Linked DNA regions of Homo sapiens. The protein of the gene in region 3 interacts with the protein of the main gene of each other region in a pairwise test. Each region holds a gene or a part of one and is shown on either strand. Other genes may lie near its edges.

Region 1 (7,025 bases), on a different chromosome or scaffold from region 3:
GATGACTTGTTTAAACCTCTTTCCTCTACAGATATGGAAACATTAGATCCCTCAAGGACAAAGACTGTATCTTAGTCACCTTTAAGATCCAGGACACACTGCCACGTGCAATAAATGTTGGTGCCTTTCCTTCCACTTTCAGGCAGGCCAGGGACCTGTTTCTAGGTGTATCTTCTCATTAGGCCATCTCCTGTCCTAGTTAGACTTGAGCATGATTGGGGTGGGCCTGGCCCTGTCCTCTTTCTGGGCACACTAGAGTAAGCCTAGACTGTCCAGTCACCCAGCCCCAGACTCCCCGGGGCATGCTTCCTCCTCAGTTTTCTTGGGTTTCAGAGGGAACAGGAATACAGGGATTGGTACCCAAGCAGATGGATGGGGGACTAGGGAGAAACCAACAACGTGCTACTCATCCTGCCATGGGGACCTCTGCATCTCCTCTAGCCCGAAACTCCACTGTCCCCAGCCAGGTGATGGTCCCTCTTCTGTGCTCCCACAGCTTTCTGACATCCCAAGGCAGGGCACTTGGCTCCCTGTCCTGTAACTGTTTACTTGTCATTTCCCTAGTTTGCCTGTGGGCTTTTTAAGGGCAAGCACTGTGGCGTGACTCGTCATTGCACCCCCAGAGCCTGACCCAAAGCCTGAGACAAAGTGAGCCCTCAAATGACCAGCAAATGAAATATGAAAGCTGGACTCGAGGCCTCAGCTGAAACCTGACCCTCTTCCTCTAGCCAGCATGTGGCCCAACAGCAGCGGGAGATGGGCTGAGGCAGTGGGGGCAGTGTCCTGCCCAGCAATTACTCCCCCAGTGAGGTCTGTGGAGGTTTTTGGGCTGGAGGCACCATCCTACAGTGAGGGGTGGACTGGAATGAGAAGAACCCGAATGAGAAGTTCCTCCTGCAACATGCATTGAGCTAGGGCCTCCAGGGCTGTGGGGAAGGGGTTCGGAGGGGCTTGTGGCCCTCTTCCTGGCTCTATCACTCAGGGAAGATTCTCAGAGCCTTGTAGGGCAGGTGCACTACTCAGGCTCAGATGTTGGCCTTGACCCCTACAGATGACCCTTTCTGACCCCACACGACCTCCTATCTAGCCCCTCTGTGTGGCTCCACTTCAGTCCTACTGATGTCCACCCTGCTGCTCTCTGGCTTCCTGAGGCTTAAGGAATAGAGGTGCATATTGCATCTTCTGGTATTTTCCTTTTGACCTTTTTTGGGGGCCCAGCTAAAGCTGGTCTGCACTCTCTGAGGAGGCTCAGGATGTCCAAGTGATAAGATGGGACAAGGAGCCCTTCTGTCAGTTCTGGTCCTGGGCGTACAGAACATCCCAGATCAGAGACCAGAGCAAGGGGCAAGGGCCAGGATAGGCCTGGCCTCCATCTCCCCCATCCTCCTGCCTCCAGAGAAAGCCCGCCTTACTCTCCCAGCCAGAGGAGCCCTCTCTGCTCCTTTTATCAGCCCTCTTTAAAGACACTCAAGGAAGGTCCTTCCCCAACTGTCCTGTGTTTTTGAGATCCCAAAGTCTGGAACCTTTCCTTAGGTCTTCCTTAAATACCAGAGGAAACAGCTTGTTTCCTCTCCACTTGCTCTGGCACAGAAACTGGTGCCTACCATCTTTTACACAATAAATTGGAGAAGAAAAGAAGAGTGTTGAGTTCACCCACCCAATAGCCCTCTCTCAGCCAGATATCCCGTGTCCAGCTCTCCTGCTGGCCTGTCATGGGACCTTCAGTCCTGTCTCTGGGTTTCTCTCCATGCCCAACTTTGGCAACAGAACTGCAGGGGCCTTTGAGCCTGGCATCCCTGGGGACCTCTCAGTCTCAGGAGGGGGAGGGAATGGGGAGGATTTCCCAGCATCTCTAAACCATATTCCTATTTATACTCCACCCCCACCAGCTGGCCCACGCCGCCCAGTGCCCACATTCTGACAAGAACCCCTGGCTGGTCGTCTCCAACTTTCCTCATTCCAATCTGAGAGACTAGCTTAAAAAAAGCAGCTTCATGTCACCGCCAAGAACTCCACTGGGCTCCTCTGACCAGCTCCCAGCTTCTGGTCACTTGGATTGCCCCGCCTCTCCCTCCTCACACTCCGCATGGCCTCCCTCCCACCAGGCTGGGCCCAGGAGGCCTCCTTGGCCTGCATGGCCTCCCCCAGGCCTCTGAACATCTCATAGTTGTTCAACTGTTCTCTAAATGTCTTTTATCAGTGTCACTCACTCACCAGGGTTCAGCCTCCTCAAAGTCACTCACTCATTTCACAAGCACCTGCTCAGCGCCAGGCACTGTCCTGGGCCCTGGGCCTCGGATTCCACTCCCTTTGGCTGCCTGGGTCTCCTCCTGCTTCTTCCTTCCTCCCGGGTCTGGTGGACTTACTTCCTCTACCTGTCCCTTGAATGTCAACACTCCCACAATTCTCTCTTTGGCCCTTTGCTCTTCCTCTCTGGGCATGCTTCCTGGGTGACCTCATCCCCTCCCGAAGTGGAAACCACCACCCGCGTGCTGATGACTCCAGATCTGTAGCCCTGGCCCCACCAAGCCCCTCAGCTCCAGATGCTTGGGTGCAGCTGCCTTCTGGGCACCCTGCCTGTGTGTCCCCCAAGGGTTCAGTTAGAGGTATGTGTGTGTGTGTTTTCTTTTGGAGACGGAGTCACCCAGGCTGGAGTGCAGTGGCGTGATCTTGGCTCAGTGCAACTTCTGTCTCCCGGGTTCAAGCAATTCTCCTGCCTCAGCCTCCCAAGTAGCTGGGACTACAAGCGCACGACACCACACCCAGCTAATTTTTTGTATTTTAGTAGAGATGGGGTTTCACCATGTTACCCAGGCTAGTCTCAAACTCCTGAACTCAGGTAATCCGCCCGCCTCGGCCTCCCAAAGTGCTAGGATTATAGGTGTGAGCCACCGCACCTGGCCAAGATGTGTTTTTAAGTGAAGAGGACAGATGTGTACAGTTTGTAAAAGCTGTACGTATGCAGGATATACACATGTGTCACAGGCATGCACATATAAACACAGCACACTGTTAGATAACCCAGAAGGTGGTAAGTCAAAACACCAGCAGTAGTTATTCCTGGGTGATAGAATTATGGGTGATTTTAATGTCTTCTTTTTGCTTATCTGCATCTTCTAATATTTCCATAATGAACATTTATTGCTTACATAAGAAGAAAATAGCAACACTTCTTTTTAAATGAAAAGAAAGTACTTTTAGATTGAGATCCTGGAGCAGTTTAGTGCAAGGCCTGGAGAGAACTATGATTATCTTGAGCAGGGGTCAGCAAACCTTTTCTGTAAGAGGCCAGACAGCCACTATTTTAGGCTTTGCGGGCCATCGTCTCTGTCGCCACTCTGCCACTCTGCCTTTGCAGCACAAAAGCACCCACAGGCAAGATGTAAATGAATGAGTTTGGCCTCACACCAGTAAAACTTTACTATGAACACTAACATTTGAATTTTATAAAATGTTTAAGGGTCACAAAACTTTATTTTCTTCTTTTGACTTTTTACCGACTGCTTAAAAATGTAAAAATCATTCTTAGCTCATGGGCCATACAAAAACTGTCGGGACTTGGCCAAGAGCCATGGTTTGCCAACCCCTAGCCTTGAGCATCCAGTGCCTGTGTAGTGTTTGAATCCAGCATCCATTTCTTTGCGAGGTAGTTGTTCTCCTCCTAATTGACAGGGCTGAGGCATTCCAGGATTTCCTTGCCCATCTCAGCATGGCAGGGACCAGGTACCCAGCCATCAGCTGGGGCAAGCCCCTGGCTCTACAGTTTGGAGGAACAGGAGGCTGAGCCCCTCTTGGGACCCCAGCACACAGCTCACCTTGTTAGCAGGACAGGCAAAAGTCGGAGCCTCAGACCAGCAGCCTCAGAGGGGCCTTTGGAAATCCCCTGGTCTGCACCCTCATGTTTCAGGCAAAGAAGGCAAGACTCAGAAAGGTGAGCGATCTGCCCGAGGCCACTGAGGGTGACAGGGCAGAGCTGGGACCACACTTTGGGCTTCTGACTTTGTGCAGGGTTGGAAGGGACTGCATGGGCCTGCGTAGAGATGGCACTCCCTTTATTGGTCACCACAGCCAAGAAAGTCACAGCATCCCCAAGGGCCACCTTCCTTGGGAAGGAGCCATGCCAGGTTTGGCACCCACACAGAACATGGCACCCAGCCCAGCCACGGCAGGGGATGCTGCCAGCTGGGCTCCACGGCAGGATCAGGGAGGGGCTCTGTGACCCCTTTCCTGGGCTCATCCCATGTTGCAGGCAGAGTTTGGGAGCCAGTGCTGCTTTGTCAAGAGTGATGCCCTCTAGCATAACACCTACCGCCCACCTGCTTCCAGGCAGTGGGTCCTGCCAGGATGTGGGAAGGACAGCCCTGTCACCTCCTGGGCTGGTCACCCCGCAGCCCAGGGTGCTGGGTGGCTGGGGCCAGAGAAGAGAAGAAGGTCTGGTTCCTGAGGAGACTCCCCAGGCAGAAAAGGGCAGGCTTCTTTAGGGAAGCAAGGTGTGAGGGCAGTAATCATTCTGGAGCTCTGAATTTCCCTCGATAATGATAAGATGGGGAACAGTGTTCAGAGTGAGGGAGGGTAGAAATTTTTTTTTTTTTTTTGAGACAAAGTCTTGCTCTGTCACCCAGTCTGGAGTGCAGTGGTACAATCCTGGCTCACTGCAACCTCTGCCTCCCTTGTTCAAGCGATTCTCGTGCCTCAGCCTCTGGAGTAGCTGGGATTACAGGTGCCTGCCACCATGCCTGGCTAATTTTTGTATTTTTAGTAGAGATGGGGTTTCGCCATGTTGGCCAGGCTGGTCTTGAACTCCTGACCTCAGGTGATCCACCTACCTCGGCCTCCCAAAGTTCTGGGATTACAGGTGTGAGCCTCTGTGCCTGGCCAGAAACATTTTAAGAATAGAGTTCTCTTCCCAATTTGGGGGCTGATCCCTGATGTTTGCAGGGACCCTGATTTCAGAAAAAAATATCAAGTGGGGCCAAAGGCACTGAGAACTACCAAATGTAGCCCATTAACTCTGCCACCACCCCTTGATAATGACATCAGGTAAAGCAAAGAGCTACTAGGTGGACATTATCTCACTGGAGTCCTCGCAATCACATGAGATAATAGTATTATCCTCCTATTTTATAAATGAGGAAACTGAAACCTGGGTGAGCAAATTACTTAACCTAAGGCAACCAGTTACTGAGTGGAAGAGGCAGAATCTGAACTGACCCCAAAGTCCATAAATTGCCTCCACCCATGGTGGACAGGAGACATACACTCAACATATAAATAATGATGAGTGCACCAGCCAGCCATTATTGGGTCATCTTGTCTATCCCGACTCCACCATTTCTAGGGAAGACTTTTATTTAATGGTGGGGGTAGGGAGGCTCAGAGGGTGGGACCATTATCAAGAGCTCCAGGAAAGAGGATCTCATCATAGTCCTTTCAAAAGTTCTGGCCCATGTCTCCCAGAGCAAGGTGTCCAGTCTCTTCAGGGTTACTCATGCTGTCAGGGAGCTTTGCTTCAAGACCCGTTTTTTGTTTTGTTTTGTTTTGTTTCTCGCCCAGGCTGGAGTGCAGTGGTGCGACCTCGGCTCACTGCAACCTCCACCTCCTGGGTTCAAGCGATCCTCCTACCTCAGCCTCCCGAGTAGCTGGGATTACAGGCACACGCCACCATGCCTAGCTAATTTTTGTATTTTTAGGAGAAACAGGGTTTCATCATGTTGGCCAGGCTGGTCTCAAACTCCTGGCCTCAAGTGATCCACCCGCCTTGGCCTTCCAAAGTGCTGGGATTACAGGCATGAGCCACCACACCCGGCCTAAGACCCTTTTCAATTTTTTTTTTGACAAGTTCTTGTTCTGTTGCCCAGGCTGGAGTGCAGTGATGCAATCATGGATCACTGCAGCCTCAACCTCCTAGGCTCAAGCGATCCTCCCCTCTCAGCCTCCCGAGTAGCTGGGACTACAGGCGCGTGCCACCACACCTGGCTAATTTTTGTATTTTTTTAGAGATGGGGTCTTGCCATGTTGCCCAGTCTGGTTTCGACCTCCTGGGCTCAAGCAATCCGCCCACCTCCCTTTTCAGTTTAAAACCAAACCTCACACTTGCCTCACTACCCCTCCTCCTCTGCAGATGTAGCTGTGGAGATTCTAGGAGCAGATGGGCTCTCTTTCAGACAGGAGGTCTGGCGGAGATGCGCCCACGGCTTTTCCTCTTCCAGACTTGCTGCTGAACCACTGGCCAGCTCCAGCCAGGCCCAGCTACCAGCTCTGTAGTGATCCTGGATCCCAGACCCTTGGCCTGAGCTGTTGTGAGCCCAGCCTGTGTGTGCATGTGCATGCAGCTGTGTGTGTGTAAGCAGCTGTGGGAGCCAGGACAAGATTAACCTTGGTCTGCTCCCACCCCCTGGATGTGGGAAAGTGCCCACTCAGCAGGGAATGCCTGGAGGGCAAAGGTGAAAAGTCCAGGGAAGGGGACGTAAGGGGTTATGGTGGGACACAGAGCCGAGGAAGAGAAATGTGACTTATTGCCAAAGGTGGGCTAATCAGGTGGGCCTGGAACCAGGCCAGCCACTCACCCTGAACAACAGAGCAGAACAGGGACTGCAATTAATTAAGTACCAGGGGAGGGTCCTCCTACCTCAGGGAAAGAAGGCGCTGCCAGAGGGCCCTCAGAGCAAGAGACTGCTGCCTCTCCAGCTCCCAGTGCCTGCCTCATTCATAACTGCCAGAAGGTAGGGCCCCCACAGCACAGATTCCTGGCCCCTCCTGGAAGATTTCCATCCAACCCATTCCCCTACCACCACCACCATTCTCTTACACAGAGCCCTCCTCCCTAACCTGGAAGAGCAGTAAAGATTCTGTCTAACTAAGGGCTTGGCCTGATGGGGCTGGGAAAATCTACCTTGGTCTCTAGACCAGCCCTGGTGCAATCACCAGGAAATTCCCTTTCCAAACAAGCACCACCAACCACTATAGCTACCAGTTATTTAGTCTCTGCTACATGCCAGGCACTGTGCATTATTTTTTTTTTTTTT
Region 2 (7,025 bases), on a different chromosome or scaffold from region 3:
TCACACAGGCCGGTGAGGTTGTGTGCTCCATCTCTTTCCACCCGGTGCGGTATGCTTTGGTGGTGTCAAGCTGCTTGTAGCTCATATTAATACATGAATTTATAGTACATACTAATTTACAGGTTTCAACATGGGGATTCTGAGGAAACTTGGGAATCCCCAAGACCCTTTTAAGGGATCAGCAAAGTCTTACTTTTTCTAATGACATATTTGTGTGAAACTGAATTTTTCTTTATGTTTAAACCAATAGATTGAATACAGAAGCAAATTGAGAAGCTAGCTGTCTTTTTTTTCAGCCAGACATTAAAAATATTTGCAAAAGTGTAAAGCAATGATACTCCTGTCACTAATTTTGTTTTTGAAAATATGGTTCTTTTTCTTTTTCTTTTTTGAGACAGAGTTTCACTCCCATCGCCCAGGCTGGAATGCAGTGGTGCAGTCTTGGCTCACTGCAACCTCCACCCCTGGGACGTAAGAGATTCTCCTGCCTTAGCCTCCTGAGTTCCTAAGACTACAGGTGCATGCCAATGTACCTGGCTAATTTTTTGTATTTTTAGTAGAGACGAGGTTTTGCCATGTTGCCCAGGCTGGTCTTGAACTCCTGAGCTCAAGTGATCCACCTGCCTTGGCCTCCCAAAGTCTGGGATTACAGGTGTGAACCACCGCACCCAGACTGTTTTTCTTAAAACATGTAATTCAGGTTAGCATGAAAAATTTTACTCTCATTATTTTAAAATTAATAATTCTTTCTCAATTTCTATCTTAATTTCTTCCTTCCTTCCTTCCTTCCTTCCTTCCTTCCTTCCTTCCTTCCTTCCTTCCTTCCTTCCTCTCTCTCTCTCTCCCTCTCTCTCTCTCTCTCTCTCTCTCTCTCTCTCTCCTGTCTCTCAGAGTCCTGCTCTGTCATCTAGGCTGGAGTGTAGTGGCACTATCATCGCTCACTGCAACCTCCACTTCCTGGGCTCAAGCGATTCTCGTGGCCCAGCCTCCGGAGTAGCTGAGATTACAGGTGTGCACCACCACGCCTGGCTAATTTTTGTATTTTTAGTAGAGACAGGGTTTTGCCATGTTGGCCGGGCTGGTCTCTAATTCCTGACCTCAGGTGATCTTCCTGCATCAGCCTTCCAAAGTGCTGGGATTTACAGACATGATGCACGGCACCTGGCCAACTGTTTTAATTTCTAGTATGGTAAATATAAACATTTCTTATATATTTTCAATAATTTAAAAAGTATAAAGGAATCCTGAAATAAAAAAATTGGAGAACCATTTTACTAGACTGTGTCATGCCTTTAGATTTTTTTTTTTTTTTTTTGAGATGGAGTCTCGCTCTTTTGTCCAGGCTGGAGTGCAATGAGGTGATCTCAGCTTACTGCAACCTCTGCCTTCTTGGTTCAAGCGATTCTCCTGCCTCAGCCTCCTGAGTAGCTGGGATTACAGGCATGTGCAACCACACCCAGCTAATATTTTTGTATTTTTAGTAGAGACGGGGTTTCGCCATGTTGGCCAGGCTGGTCTTGAACTCCTGACCTCAGGTGATCCACCCGCCTCGGGCTCCCAAAGTGCTGGGATTACAGGTGTGAGCCACCACCCCCGGCCTTGCCTTTAGACCTTTGCCTGTACCCCAACTAAAATACTATTCCTTCTTCCATATTTTCCTGGCAAATGCTTATATAAGTATTCCCCTGGCTCTTTTCTTCTCTGGAGTCACTCATTCCTTCTTGTATTTTCCTATATCTTGAAAACATTTCTTTTATTTTTCATGTTTTTGTATTGTTTAGTCATGTGTCTTTCTTACAAAACCGTGAGCCTTCTCAAAGCAAGAACCCTATCTAAATAATCTCATTATTTCTAGTGCTAGTCCAGTGCTCTGTATAGAGGACATAACCTATGAATATTGTACATTGAATGGACTAAAATCAAAGGCCTGAATTTTAGTTGCAGATCTGCCACTACCTAGCTGTGTGACTTTTCGCAAGTTACTTGACCCCTATGAAGCTCAGTTTCCTCATGGGCAAAATGAGAGTATTAGGCCAGATTGTCTCTAAGGTCCCTTCCCACTCTGATATTTTTATTCGGACTGAGTGGGTACATGGCATGCTGGTTTCGATAAATATCAGTGGGAATCCCATATGAAAATATTTGACATTTAGCATATTTAGTAATGTAAACTATATTGGGATCTTCCTTCATTCCTTCCAACAAATTAAAAAATGGGAATTCTTGCCACTTTTGTTTCTGGGTCTTCCTTGGATATGTAGCACCATGACCCTCAGGTGATGACCCATATATTTATTGTGACCTGTTTGACTTCTAGGTCTGAGCACCATCCCCCTCATCTCCTGCCTCTTCCCAGCTTACTTTTCAGTAGTGAGAAAACCCCTTCTCTTACTGTGATGATGTGGAAAGAAAAATGAGATGGGAACACATAGAAGCCCAAGCTTTGTTCAAAAAGAATTTCATTCCCTTACCTTCCAAGAGCTGTCAGAGGCCTGAATCAGAGTGGACAGTAGGTCTTGGAGAATCACCATTTTCTGTTTTAGGACCAGCTCCCTTTGTAGGGCCTCCTGGGGGTGCGGGCACAAAGTGCAAGAGGGTAAGATTAACCTGGAGGATCGGGGGTAAGTGGATGGAGGAACTGAGGGGAGGGGTCACATGCCACTTACTTTGAGGTAATCAGAAAGCTGGATGATTTCCTGGAGAGAAAGAACAAGGGTATTCAAAATGTCTGTAAGTCCCCTGAAACCCTGGGATATAGAACCAGAGCCTGGGCTGGCTTGTGTAGAGCAAACCTCTTCTGCTTTGGCTCTGACAGGGTCCCTTTAGTCCCCATGTCTATGCTCAGTACCCCCTTGCCATCCAGGAAGAAGATGCCCCTCCATCCCAGCCAAGTTTATCATGGAATTCCAGAATGTCAGAGCTTAATACTTTCTGATTTGACCCCTTCAAAGTGAATATGTGCTTACCTTATCCAGAACTGCAACTCCGTAACTGGAAAGAGAAGAAATTAAAAATAATGATAATGGACCAAAGAATCAAGTCAGGAGGCAGTGGGTTGATTCCTTCTGAAGAGCCAGTAGGGTGGGGAAGGGCTTCCTCTTTCTTAATTAAGGCGGACATGGAAATTCATTGTGTTCTCTCTAGAGAGGAATGGATGGGATGTGAGAGGGTTAGGGTCAGGAACTCACTTGGTTTGCTGACTGGCATCGTTCTTAATTGTTGGTCCTTCTGCCTTTGTCTGAGTACCTGAGAGATGGAGGATAAGTTGATTTAGAACTTACAGGGAGGAAGTGAGGGAAGTGGGGAGGGACAGGGACTCTCCATTGCCAGTGAGCTGGGACAGTTGTCTCAGGATTCTCTGCAGGCCCTGTGGAGTGAGGGAGGCTCTGCTCTTACCACGGTGGTGTTTGGGTGGCTTCTTGATGGGAGTGTCCTGTGGAGGAAGGCCCCCAGCCTGTGAGGAGAGGTGGTCAGACAGATCCCTGCAGATGCCTGAGGGAGGAGGATGCTGGGCTGGAAAGACTTCAGAGCTGGTGCCTGTCACCTGGAAGGCAAGTGGGGAATGCTGAAAACCACTGCCTGGAGCCTCTTGAAAGACTCTCCTGATGATTTCGGAAGGAAGAACTAACCATCATGTTTGTTATGGACTGAGTGTTTATTGTCCCCCCGCCCAAATCTGTGTGTTGAAATCCTATCTCCCAATGTGATAGTATTAGGAGGTGGAGACTTTGAGAAATAATTAGGTCAGAGCAGGTAGCCCTCATGAATGGGATTAGTGCCATTATTAGAAGAGACACGAGAGAGCTTGCTTTCTCTCTCTGCTCTCTGCCTTGTGAGGACACAATGAGAAGAAGGCCATCTGCATAGTGGGAAGAGTGCTCTCATCAGACACCAGATCTGCAGAATCCATGGGTTTAGAACTCCAGACTCCAGAATTGTAAGAAATAAATTTCTGTTATTTAAGCCACCCAGTCTGTGGTAATTCATTACAGGACGAAGACAATGTTTCAGATCCACAAAACCAAAGTAGCCCACTCAAGCTTTCAGAGCCACACAGGCTTCTCCTGCTCCTGATATCCTTGTCCTGACTGGCAGAAATGGTCCTCCTCAGGCCAGGCATATGTGGAGCTGTACTTTTCTCCAGGTTTTCTCTCTAGAATCTCTAGTTGTTGTTTTTTTTTCTCTCTCTACCTTGTTTGGTTATGGCCACTTACATAGCCAGCATGGTGATGTGGAAAGAGAACTGGTCTGAGTGGGGAGTGAGGGGATCTGGGTTCAGATCCCATCTTTTCTAGGTCTCAGTCTTCTGTCTGTGTAGTGAGGAGTTTGGAATAGATAATCCATAAGGTTCCTTCCATATTCAAAGGAAAGCCTCCTTTCTCTTAGTAACAGCTAGAAAATCATTGAGGTTTTGTGTGAAGACTAGGTAAAGTGGGGAGTTGTGGGAAGGTTTTTTGCTTTAGTATACAGTTCCTTTTCTTTTGCAACTGGGCTCTAGGATCATTTCTCTGAACAGCATCTCCTATTGAGCATAACAGATCCACTAGTTAAGAAGCCCTGATAGAGTACCCACTCTGGGTAGGGAACAATGCCAAGCATTACCATGGAACATAGTGGACACATCCCTGCTGTCAACATGCTCACAACTTCAGTAGGAAGATGGTTTGCTGGCCAAGGTCATCTCAGCATACCCTGGTTTTTGCCAACATTGTTCCTTTCCAGGCCAGACTAATGGGCCCTCTAAGGGTTACACAATCTTAGAAGATTTTAACCTCACAAGGCCCATAGACAGCAGAGGTGGCCTGGAGAAGCCAGGGAAAGCTTCCTGGACCAGATGAGGCTATAGTCAAGTGATTTAATAGAATTGGAATGACACAAGAGGAAGTGAGAAGAGTGGGCACAACAGCCTTGCAGAAGAAAAGAGGACAGATATGTCTGTGTGTGTGTCAAGAAGACTGGCCTGTGTGCTTGGCATATAATAAGCTTTCAGTAAATATTTGATGACTGATGGATGAATGAATGCTGTAAGATAGCTGTAGAAGACATGTGTATATTGCCTAAATTTGAACTGATATAGGCATTAGCTTTGGAATTATTTTTATTTATTTTATTTTTAAGTTTTTTAGAGATAGGGTCTCCCTCTCTTGCCCAGGCTGGAGTGCAATGGTGTGATCATAGCTTATTGCAGCTTCAAACTCCTGGGTTCAAGTAATCCTCCCATCTTTGCCTCCTGATTAGTTAGGACTACAGGTGTGCACCACCATGCCTGGTTAGTTTGTAAAGTTTTTGATAGAGACAGGGTCTTGTCTCTATCAAAAGGCTGGTCTCGAACTCCTGGCCTCAAGTGATCCTCCTGCCTTGGCCTCCCAAAGTACTGGGATTACAGGTATAAGCCAACATGCCCAGCCTGAAATTGTTTTTAAAAATTATTTTTTCTCTCTTATAAGTCAAGTGCAGAACAAAAAGAGCTAAACAAACGAAAACACAACAGCAAAAATCTCTGAATAAGTAGCTGTTGGCAACTTTACTATAAGTAGCTCTTGGCAACTTTACTATATGACTGAGGAAGAAGGACTTGATTTAGGTCACTTTTTAGTGACCTTGAGCCCACCCACCCTCCTTGTCCAGAGAGGGTCCCAGAGCACACAGCAGTATGTCCCTTGACACGGCCCACCTGCTCTCTGGGAGAAGAAATCCTTCTGGCACAAGACAAGGGTTCCTTGAGGACAGTCACCTGTCCTGGCCGCCTGGAGGGCCCTTGCTCCCTGGCCTGGGGATGCTGCGCTTTGCCCTTCTCCTCTAGCTCCAGGTTCCTCCTCCTGAAGAACTGCTGCAGTCGAGCTCTCTGGAGCTGCTCTCTCTGTTGGATCCTCAGCGTCTTCCCCACCTGGCGGCAAGTGGTCACATTGGGACGGCAGCGGCGGCTTTCACGGATCTCTTGCCTGCGCTCACACTTGGCCTCATAGCTCTCAGCCCACCGGGCCAAGCCAGGGGAGGGCCTGGGGTCTGGGCTGATCATGATGACCTCCAAGCACCTGTTGCGCTTGGCTTCCAGTTCCTGGAATAGATGCCTGGATCTGCCAAATGCCAAGAGGGAGGAGAAGGGGAGGGGTCAGAAGATGGGCAGAAAAATGACTATCTCCCTAGACCAGGGGGCAGAAATAGCACAGAGTTCCATCCATGTGGGTTGAAAACTGAGGACATGGTGGTATCAAAGTGGGAGTCAGGACTCTTGGGCTCAGTCTCTAATGAACTAATACAGTCTTATAAAAGTGAATTCCTGCTTTTCTCTAGCCGATGTTTCCCCTTTGTAAAGTAAAAGGGTCTCTATGGCTGCCACTTACTCCTTGACTGAACATCTTACCATGCCTCTGAGTCAGGGGAACATGAGAAATAATTGATTAAAATCATAATGAGCTTATAGCCTCTTGGATGGCAGGTGTGTGTTCATTTTCCAGACTTCTAGAGAAGCAGCTAAGTTGAGCCAATCTGCCCTCTTATCCCCCAGTTGAAAAGGAAAGTCAGTATCTTTACTGGTCTCTTGGTCCAAGCTGTCACTAACATAGTTGAGTGACACTTCTCAAGGATCTGGAGGGCTAACCACACCCCCTCAGGTGGTGACCAGTCCTGTGACCAGCACCCACTGCTCTCTTCTTGACTTTTAGCAACGAGCTTGTGAGCCTGGACCTGGCATGGTTTAGGAGGGAAACCCTACCCTAATTCCTCCAACCTGCTGTCCTGACAATGGTCCATGGGCCCCCCACTCCAAGCTCAGGACTGGGCTGTGTCTCTCAGGTGCAGATCAAGTCCAATCAATATTGACTGAGCATCTGCCACATGCCTAGTGCTGGCCAAAACCCATTTCAGAGCATCTGGCTCCAATACTGTTGGGGCTGAGGGTTCCATTTCTTTAGGATTACCAACCTGTCAGGGTTAATGTTGGTGCCAAGTCTGCTTTCCTTAGCCCAGACACAGATTGTGCCATCCAAACCCACAAGCACATGAATTGTACCTCAATAAGGCTG
Region 3 (7,025 bases):
CACAAAACCTTCCCTGATAGACTCGCATGCACCTGCTGGGTATCTTGCTGGGTACCACCCTCCCAAGCCCCTGCATGGCCTCCTCACAGCCCCTGGCACCTAGTTATTGTCACCTGTTTTCTTGCCTCTATCCTGACTGTCCTGTGAGCTCCCTGAGGATGGCAGCCTGGGATTGGGCCCCACCACCACCCCACCCTCCGTGTGGAGCCCGCACACAGCCTGGGTATCAGAAACCATCGCTGGCTTCCTTGATGCCAAACACTGAGCTCCCTAGGCAGTGGAGGACCTCGGGTGAGACAGGCGGAGCAGTCATCCACAGCAGAAGTTCTGTCCATGTGCAGAATGGGGAAAATGAGACCCCAGATAAGTCAACACGGCCACCTGACTCCCAGCACAGTGCTCTCTCCAACAGGCCCCACATGGGGAGTGAGGCAAGTAGCTAGCCAAGAATCCAGAGGCAAGACTAGGAGGACAGATGACCCTGGCATCTGCTCATGGGATGGAGGGCAGGGTGGCATGGCCCCCAGCTCCCAGGCGGGCAGGCATCACCTGGAACAGCTCCTCTTCCAGCTGCAGGGCCCTGGTCTTGAGCTCCATCAGCGCCTCCTCCTTGCTGGTCGCCGCCGCCTGCAGCTCAGCTTCCAGCCGCTGCTCCAAGCCCTGGTACCTGCCAGGAGAATCCTTAGCACCCAGCCCCACCCCACCCTCGCCCCACCACACCCCTGCCTCCCTCATTCTTCCCCTCAGCCCTGTCCCCACCTCTGGTGCTGGCTTTCCTTTTCTCGCAGAAATTCCTGGCGCTCGAGAGCCGCCTGCTCCAGCTCACGCTGCAAATGCTCCAGCCGGTCCCCCAACTCCTTGCCCCGCACCACAGCTTTCTCCAGCTCCTGAGGGCAAGCAGAGCAGGCTCAGGGCAAGGGGGCAGGAGACAGCCGGAGACAGAGGCCTGAGAGTCAAGAGAGCTGCCTTTCTGTCCTTGACCTGCCATCCTGGGCACGTATCATTAAGCCTTTGGGCTCTACTTCCCCATCTATAAAATGGGAGCAAAGCCTGGGGCCCTTGAAATTGGGCATGAAAGAGCTGGGTGTTGTAAGCCTGGCAGGGCATGAGGAAGGCCCCTGGGCTGGGAGTCGGTAGGTGACACATGTTGGGCAAGTGCCGTCACCTCTCTGAGCCCACGGTTCTTCATGTGCGCAGTGAAAGGTGGATGCGCCCGGTGGGCTGCCACCCCAGCCATGTGACAGCGAGACAGCTAGAGAGGCTCAGCAGAGGTGGGTCGGGTGAGAGACCTTGGCTACAGGGAAAAGGCCACGGAGGGCTGGAGGGACAGGAAGTCAGGAGCTGACAGTGGGGGCTGGGGGGGCAGGGGGCGCCAGGATGCTGCCAGCTAGGTGACCTGTGGCCTTTGGCGGTTGGGCTGCACCACTTTGGAAGGAGACGGGAGGCCCATTCTGGCCTGTGTGCCCCAGAGGGAGGGAGACCAAACCATTCTGCCACATGGGGGGCCTGGCAGGATGAAGCTTCGGGGACAGCTGCCCATGACCAGCTGCCAGCCAAATCCTGCCTTGGAAACCAAGCCTACAAGCCTTGCTGCTGAAAACTACCTTCCTGGCTTAATAACTGCACCTAGGCCTTGCCCAAGGGGCACTGCACCTCCTGACACTCTTGGCCACCACCTCTCCCTGAAAAACTACAAGTCCGATGAGGCACTGCTGCCTGGCTGGCTGACAGCCACTAGCGCAAGTACTGGGGTAGGAGGCACGGTGAATAGAACCTCCCGCCCAGCCCCTGCCCTGCCCTCCTCCGGGCCCTGGCCACAGCCCTCCTAGAACCCCCTCCCCCAAGCCTGGGAGGCTTCCCCACCCAGTGGACAACCTGAGACCCCCTGGTTCCCTGACCTCCCCCTGGCCAGCCACCTTCTCCTGCTCCAACCAGGAAATCTCACAAAATTCCCCCTTTGTCCCTAGCTTCCCCCACCCTCTCAGTCCTTGGAGCCGGCTCTTCCAGCCCGCCAGCCCTACCCTCACCTTCACTGCCTACCTGCTGCCATTCCCTCCCATGGAACAGGTCCATTCTAGGTGCCAGGCATTGCCCCAAGCTCCCTACGCTCATTATCTTACAGGATCCTGTGAGGCAGGTACAATTTTTTTTTTTTTTTTTTTTTTTTTGAGACGGAGTCTTGCTCTGTCACCCAGACTGGACTGCAGTGGCGCGATCTTGGCTCACTGCAACCTCTGCCTCCTGGGTTCAAGCAATTCTCCTACCTCAGCCTCCCGAGTAGCTGGGATTACAGGTGCGTGCCACCACACCCGACTAATTTTGTGTTTTTAGTAGAGTTGGGGTTTTGCCATGTTGGCCAGGCTGGTCTCGAACTCCTGACCTCCGGTCATCCGCCCACCTCAGCCTCCCGAAGTGCTGGGATTACAGGTGTGAGCCACTGTGCCCAGCCAAGGCAGGTACAATTTTTATTCCAGTTTTACAAGTGAGAAAACTGAGACTCAGAGAGGTTAAGTAACTTGCCCCAAGCCACACAGCTGGAAAGTAGGCAGGTCGCCCGGCTAGACAGCATCTCAGCCACACCCCACAGAGTGGACCCCAGAGATGGTCTCTCACCTTCCCTCTCACATTCGCCAGAACCCCCTTACCCTGGGCCTGTCTTGCACAACGCCTGACCCCATGTCTACCCAGCAGTGTTCTCCCCACCCCCCATCCTCATAATGGGTCTCTGAGCAAATTACTCTTCCTCCCTGAATTTCAGGGTCCTTGTCTGTACAGAAATGGGACTGGAAACTGCCTGTGCAGGATGACTCAGTTCCTACCTGTGTTGCAATCTCACAGGTCCCCTAGCACTGGGGCCCATTGGCCCAAACACCCTTCCTCGCGCCTTTTCACACGCAGACCTGACCACTTTGCTCACTTTGCCCATTGGGGAGCCTTCAGTGGCTGCCCAATCCCCCATGGCAAAAGCCCTAACCCCTTCCTTAGCTTGGAAGGAAGCTGAAGCCACGCCCAAACACTGGATTGCTAGCTTCGTGGTCACTGCTGTGTGCCCAGAGCCTGGTACAGGGCCTGGCACCAAGAAGATGCCTGTAAACATGTTTAAATGAATAAGTAAAAGTGTGTTGGCCAGGTGCGGTGGCTCACGCCTGTAATCCCAGCACTTTGGGAGGCCGAGGCGGGCAGATCACAAGGTCAAGAGATTGAGACCATCCTGGCCAACATGGTGAAACCCTGTCTCTACTAAAAATTCAAAAAATTAGCTGGGCATGGTGGCATGCACCTGTAGTCCCAGCTACACGAGAGGCTGAGGCAGGAAAATCGCTTGAACCTGGGAGGTGGAGGTTGCAGTGAGCCGAGATCACGCCTCCAGCCTGGTGACAGAGGGAGACTCTGTCTCAAAAAAAGAAAAGAAAAGAAAAGAAAGAAACTAGCCAGGCCAACATGATGAAACCCCATCTCTACTAAAAATACAAAAATTGGCCGGGCGCGGTGGCTCACGCTTGTAATCCCAGCACTTTGGGAGGCCAAGGCGGGTGGATCACGAGGTCAGGAGATCGAGACCATCCTGGCTAACATGGTGAAACCCCGTCTCTACTAAAAACACAAAAAATTAGCCGAGTGCGGGAGCGGGTGCCTGTAGTCCCAGCTACTCCGGAGGCTGAGGCAGGAGAATGGCGTGAACCTGGGAGGCGGAGCTTGCAGTGAGCCGAGATAGCACCACTGCAGTCTGGCCTGGGCGAAAGAGCGAGACTCCGTCTCAAAAAAAAAAAAAAATACAAAAAGTAGCCAGGCGTGGTGGTGTGTGCCTGTACTCCCAGCTACTCAGGAGGCTGAGGTGGGAGAATCTCTTGAACCTGAGAGGCGGAGGTTGCAATGAACCAAGATCACCCCACTGCACTCCAGACTGGGCAACAGAGGGAGACTCTGTCTCAAAAAGAAAAAAGTGTCCAGTCCTCCTCTCACACCCACTCCCATGCCTCCCTAGTCAGCTTCCTCTGCCACTTACACCATGGCTACTGCGTCCTGATAGCCCCAAGCTCCCCTGTCCACCAAGGTGACCCTCCTCAAGCGCAGCCCCACACAGTTCTACCCTGGCTTTCCCTGCCTGGGGAGGGAGGACCAACACATTCAAAGCTGGCCCTCATCATCCCTTCCTCCTGGGCCCTGAGCATTCTTTTTTTGTTGTTGTTTCATTGGATGGTGTTTGTTTGTTTTGAGACAGTCTCGCTCTGTCGCCCAGGCTGGAGTATAGTGGCACAATCTCAGCTCACTGCAACCTCCGCCTTCCGGGTTCAAGCAATTCTCCTGCCTCATCCTCCCAAGTAACAGATTACAGGTGCCTGCCACCACGCCTGGCTGATTTTTGTATTTTTAATGGAGGCAGGGTTTCACCATGTTGGCCAGGCTGGTATAGAACTCCTGACCTCAAGTAATCCACCCACCTCGGCCTCCCAAAGTGCTGGGATTACAGGTGTGAGCCACCACACCCAGCCCCTGAGCGTCTTTAATGCCTTTGTCTTTGCACATGCCATTCCCTCTGGACAAAATGTCCTCCCCACCTAGTGACATTATGGTCACTCCTCCTAAAGCCTCCTTGCCTCCACTTGGGCATCAGCTCACCCTCCCATGGGCTCTCGTAGCACTTGGCTCTGAATAACCAGTGCTTGAACACTTACAACATACCCTTGCCAGCATGAACCAGACCTTTACAGCTACTGTCTCCCAAGGTCCTCCTAAGACCACCCCAGGTGGCCAGGAATAGTACCCCTGTTTTACAGAAGGATGCCTGGGGTGGAGGTGAGTCTACTGCTGCAGCCAGAGAGCCAAGATGTGTACTAGGCAGTCCCACCCCCTCCCACAGCGCCCCCATCACACAGTGGACATGGCTCTGTGCCCCAGGCCAGGCACACCTTTGGAAGGCAGGGGTGGACTTGGCCTTTCTATCTCCAGCCCCAGCTCAGTGCTGGGCACCCACTGAACAGCTGCTGATGGAATCAGTAACTCCCAACAGCCTGGAACTCTGCTTCCCAACCCCAGCGGTGAGCCCCAACCTGACCTACCGCCTGGAGGGCCTCCTTCTCCCGGCGCTCCCTCTCAGCCTCCTCCAAGTGCTGGCGGCCCTCGCTCTCCAGCACCTGCATCCGTTCCTCGGCGGCCTCCGACTGGGCCCGCAGCCTGGACCCCTCACGCTCCCACTGCCTCCGCTCCCGGCCCGCTGCTGCCAGCGCCTCCACCAGCGCCTCCCGTTCCTGGGACGCAGACTCCAGCTCCTGGCCAGCAGCCTCCACTGCCTCCCGCAGCCGGGCTTGCTCCCAGGCCTGGGCCTCTGCCTCCCGGTGGGCCTCGGCCTCTGCCCTTCGCGCTTGGGCCAGCTCCTTGGAGAGGCGGGCAGCCTCCGTGTTTTGGGCCTCCAGCTTGCGGGCCTGGGCTTCCAGCTCATCTCCAAGGGCCTCAGCCTTTCTCCTCAACTGTGCCACCTCCTCCCTGAGGGCCTCCTGCTCTGCGACACCACTGGCCAGGCTCTCCCCTGGGATTGGGCCTTCCCAGACCTGGACCTCAAGAGCCCCTTCTGACTTCTGCTGTGGTTTTTGCCAGGCTGGGTCCCTGACCGTCCCTTCCAGCCTCTGGTCATGCTCTCTGGCCTCTGCTTGTCCCGTGGCCAGGTCCAGGCCCTGGTTTGGGCCCTCCTGCTCCTCCAGCTGCACAGAGCTGGGCTCCGAAGGCCCTGGCTTGTGCTCAGGGCCCTCCTGTCTCAACCCCCAGGCCTCAGGCACCAACTCGCCTTGGGGAGCCTCTCTTCCCTCTGTCTCTCCTCCCAGCAACTGCGGGGCCTGAATTTTGGTCCCTGGACCCTGAGGTGGGGCCACAGAGGCAGGGCTCTGGAGAGAGGATCTACGGCCAGCCTTCTCCGGGGACTCCTGTGTCTCCACAGGAGAGCCTGACTCTTGCGGGGACCAGTCTGAGGCCTGGGGGTCCATGGCAGCTGCCTGAAGGGGACTCTCTGCCTCCTGTGGGTCTGAATCAGGTGCCTGGGGACACTCAGCTGATGCCTCGAGCACTGAGTCTAATGCCGGGGGAGCCAAGTCCAAGGCCTGGGGGCCTCCATCCCTTGCCTTCTGAACCAAGCCCTGAGGGCTGTGGTCGAAGGCCACAGGAGTCTGGGGAGCCTCCTCCAGCACTGGAAGAACAGGGTCCTCTCTCGGTGCCTCCAGCAGGGGGTGCTGAGGGCATACGAGAGGGACAGTCAGGCCCAGGGAGGGACTAGGGGAAGGGCCGGCCAGGACCCTGGGGGAGGGGACTTACCTGGCCCCCTGGCTGCCCCTGAAGCACCTGAAGCAGCCCCCGAAGCTCCCGGTTCTCCCTCTCAAGGGTCCGAAGCCGCCCAGCCTCTGCCTCCCTCACCTCATCTTGCAGCGAGGGGGCCGCTCCTGCTAGGGGTGCTGAGGATGAGAGATGAGGTCAGGACCCCTCCTTTACTGCCTGGCTCCTCACATACACACCCCAGAGGCTTGGGAGAAGGGAGGGAGTCAGAGGCTCTCCCCAGTACACTGCTGGAAAGCATAGGAAGCCCCCACCCCAGCCCTTCCAGTGGGGTCCCTCACCCTCCCCAGGGGATCCTGGAGGTGGCTCCAAGCTCCGCTGAAGCTCCAGCTCCAGCTCCACATTCTCCTCAGCCAGCTGGTCCACCTGATGCCGCAGAGAGTCCAGCTCCTGGGGGTGAGGGAAGGGTCAGACAAGCCCTCCACACCATGGCCAGGCCGAGTGTGTAGGTCGGAGGGTCACTAGAGGTCACCAAGAGCAGAGGTTGCAAGAATCACTAGGGACCACTAGGGAATCAATGGGGTCATGGGGTGACGGGGCAACCCAAGTGGGATCACTCTGGCTACCTTACCGCATGGGCCTCGCCCAGCCGGGTTCGCAGCAGCAGGTTCTCGCGCTGGGTCTCGTGCAGCCGGGCGCAGCGCTCTCGGGCAGCCTCCAGCTGCTCTTCCAGCAGCGCCTTGGACGCCTCCAGCACCCCCGAG

Evidence for each region. Proteins that work in one complex are often made in the same cells at the same time.
Region 1: the proteins of CCDC88B (region 3) and CDK18 interact in binary tests that used the Homo sapiens proteins (3 or more experiments, as listed by UniProt).
Region 2: the proteins of CCDC88B (region 3) and TRAF3IP3 interact in binary tests that used the Homo sapiens proteins (3 or more experiments, as listed by UniProt).

The regions. Positions count from the first base shown.
Region 1 is NC_000001.11:205,507,650-205,514,674, reverse strand, and holds part of CDK18 (cyclin-dependent kinase 18), read right to left. Parts: intron 2,359-7,025; exon of another isoform or gene 2,215-2,358; intron 1-2,214. UniProt on the Homo sapiens protein: May play a role in signal transduction cascades in terminally differentiated cells.
Region 2 is NC_000001.11:209,759,034-209,766,058, reverse strand, and holds part of TRAF3IP3 (TRAF3-interacting JNK-activating modulator), read right to left. Parts: 5' UTR 6,925-7,025; intron 6,078-6,924; 5' UTR 6,020-6,077; coding exon 5,675-6,019; intron 3,545-5,674; coding exon 3,397-3,544; intron 3,247-3,396; coding exon 3,189-3,246; intron 2,992-3,188; coding exon 2,967-2,991; intron 2,697-2,966; coding exon 2,667-2,696; intron 2,568-2,666; coding exon 2,472-2,567; intron 1-2,471. UniProt on the Homo sapiens protein: Adapter protein that plays essential roles in both innate and adaptive immunity. Plays a crucial role in the regulation of thymocyte development.
Region 3 is NC_000011.10:64,343,193-64,350,217, reverse strand, and holds part of CCDC88B (coiled-coil domain-containing protein 88B), read right to left. Parts: coding exon 6,893-7,025; intron 6,712-6,892; coding exon 6,603-6,711; intron 6,441-6,602; coding exon 6,304-6,440; intron 6,222-6,303; coding exon 5,061-6,221; intron 888-5,060; coding exon 760-887; intron 668-759; coding exon 550-667; intron 1-549. UniProt on the Homo sapiens protein: Acts as a positive regulator of T-cell maturation and inflammatory function.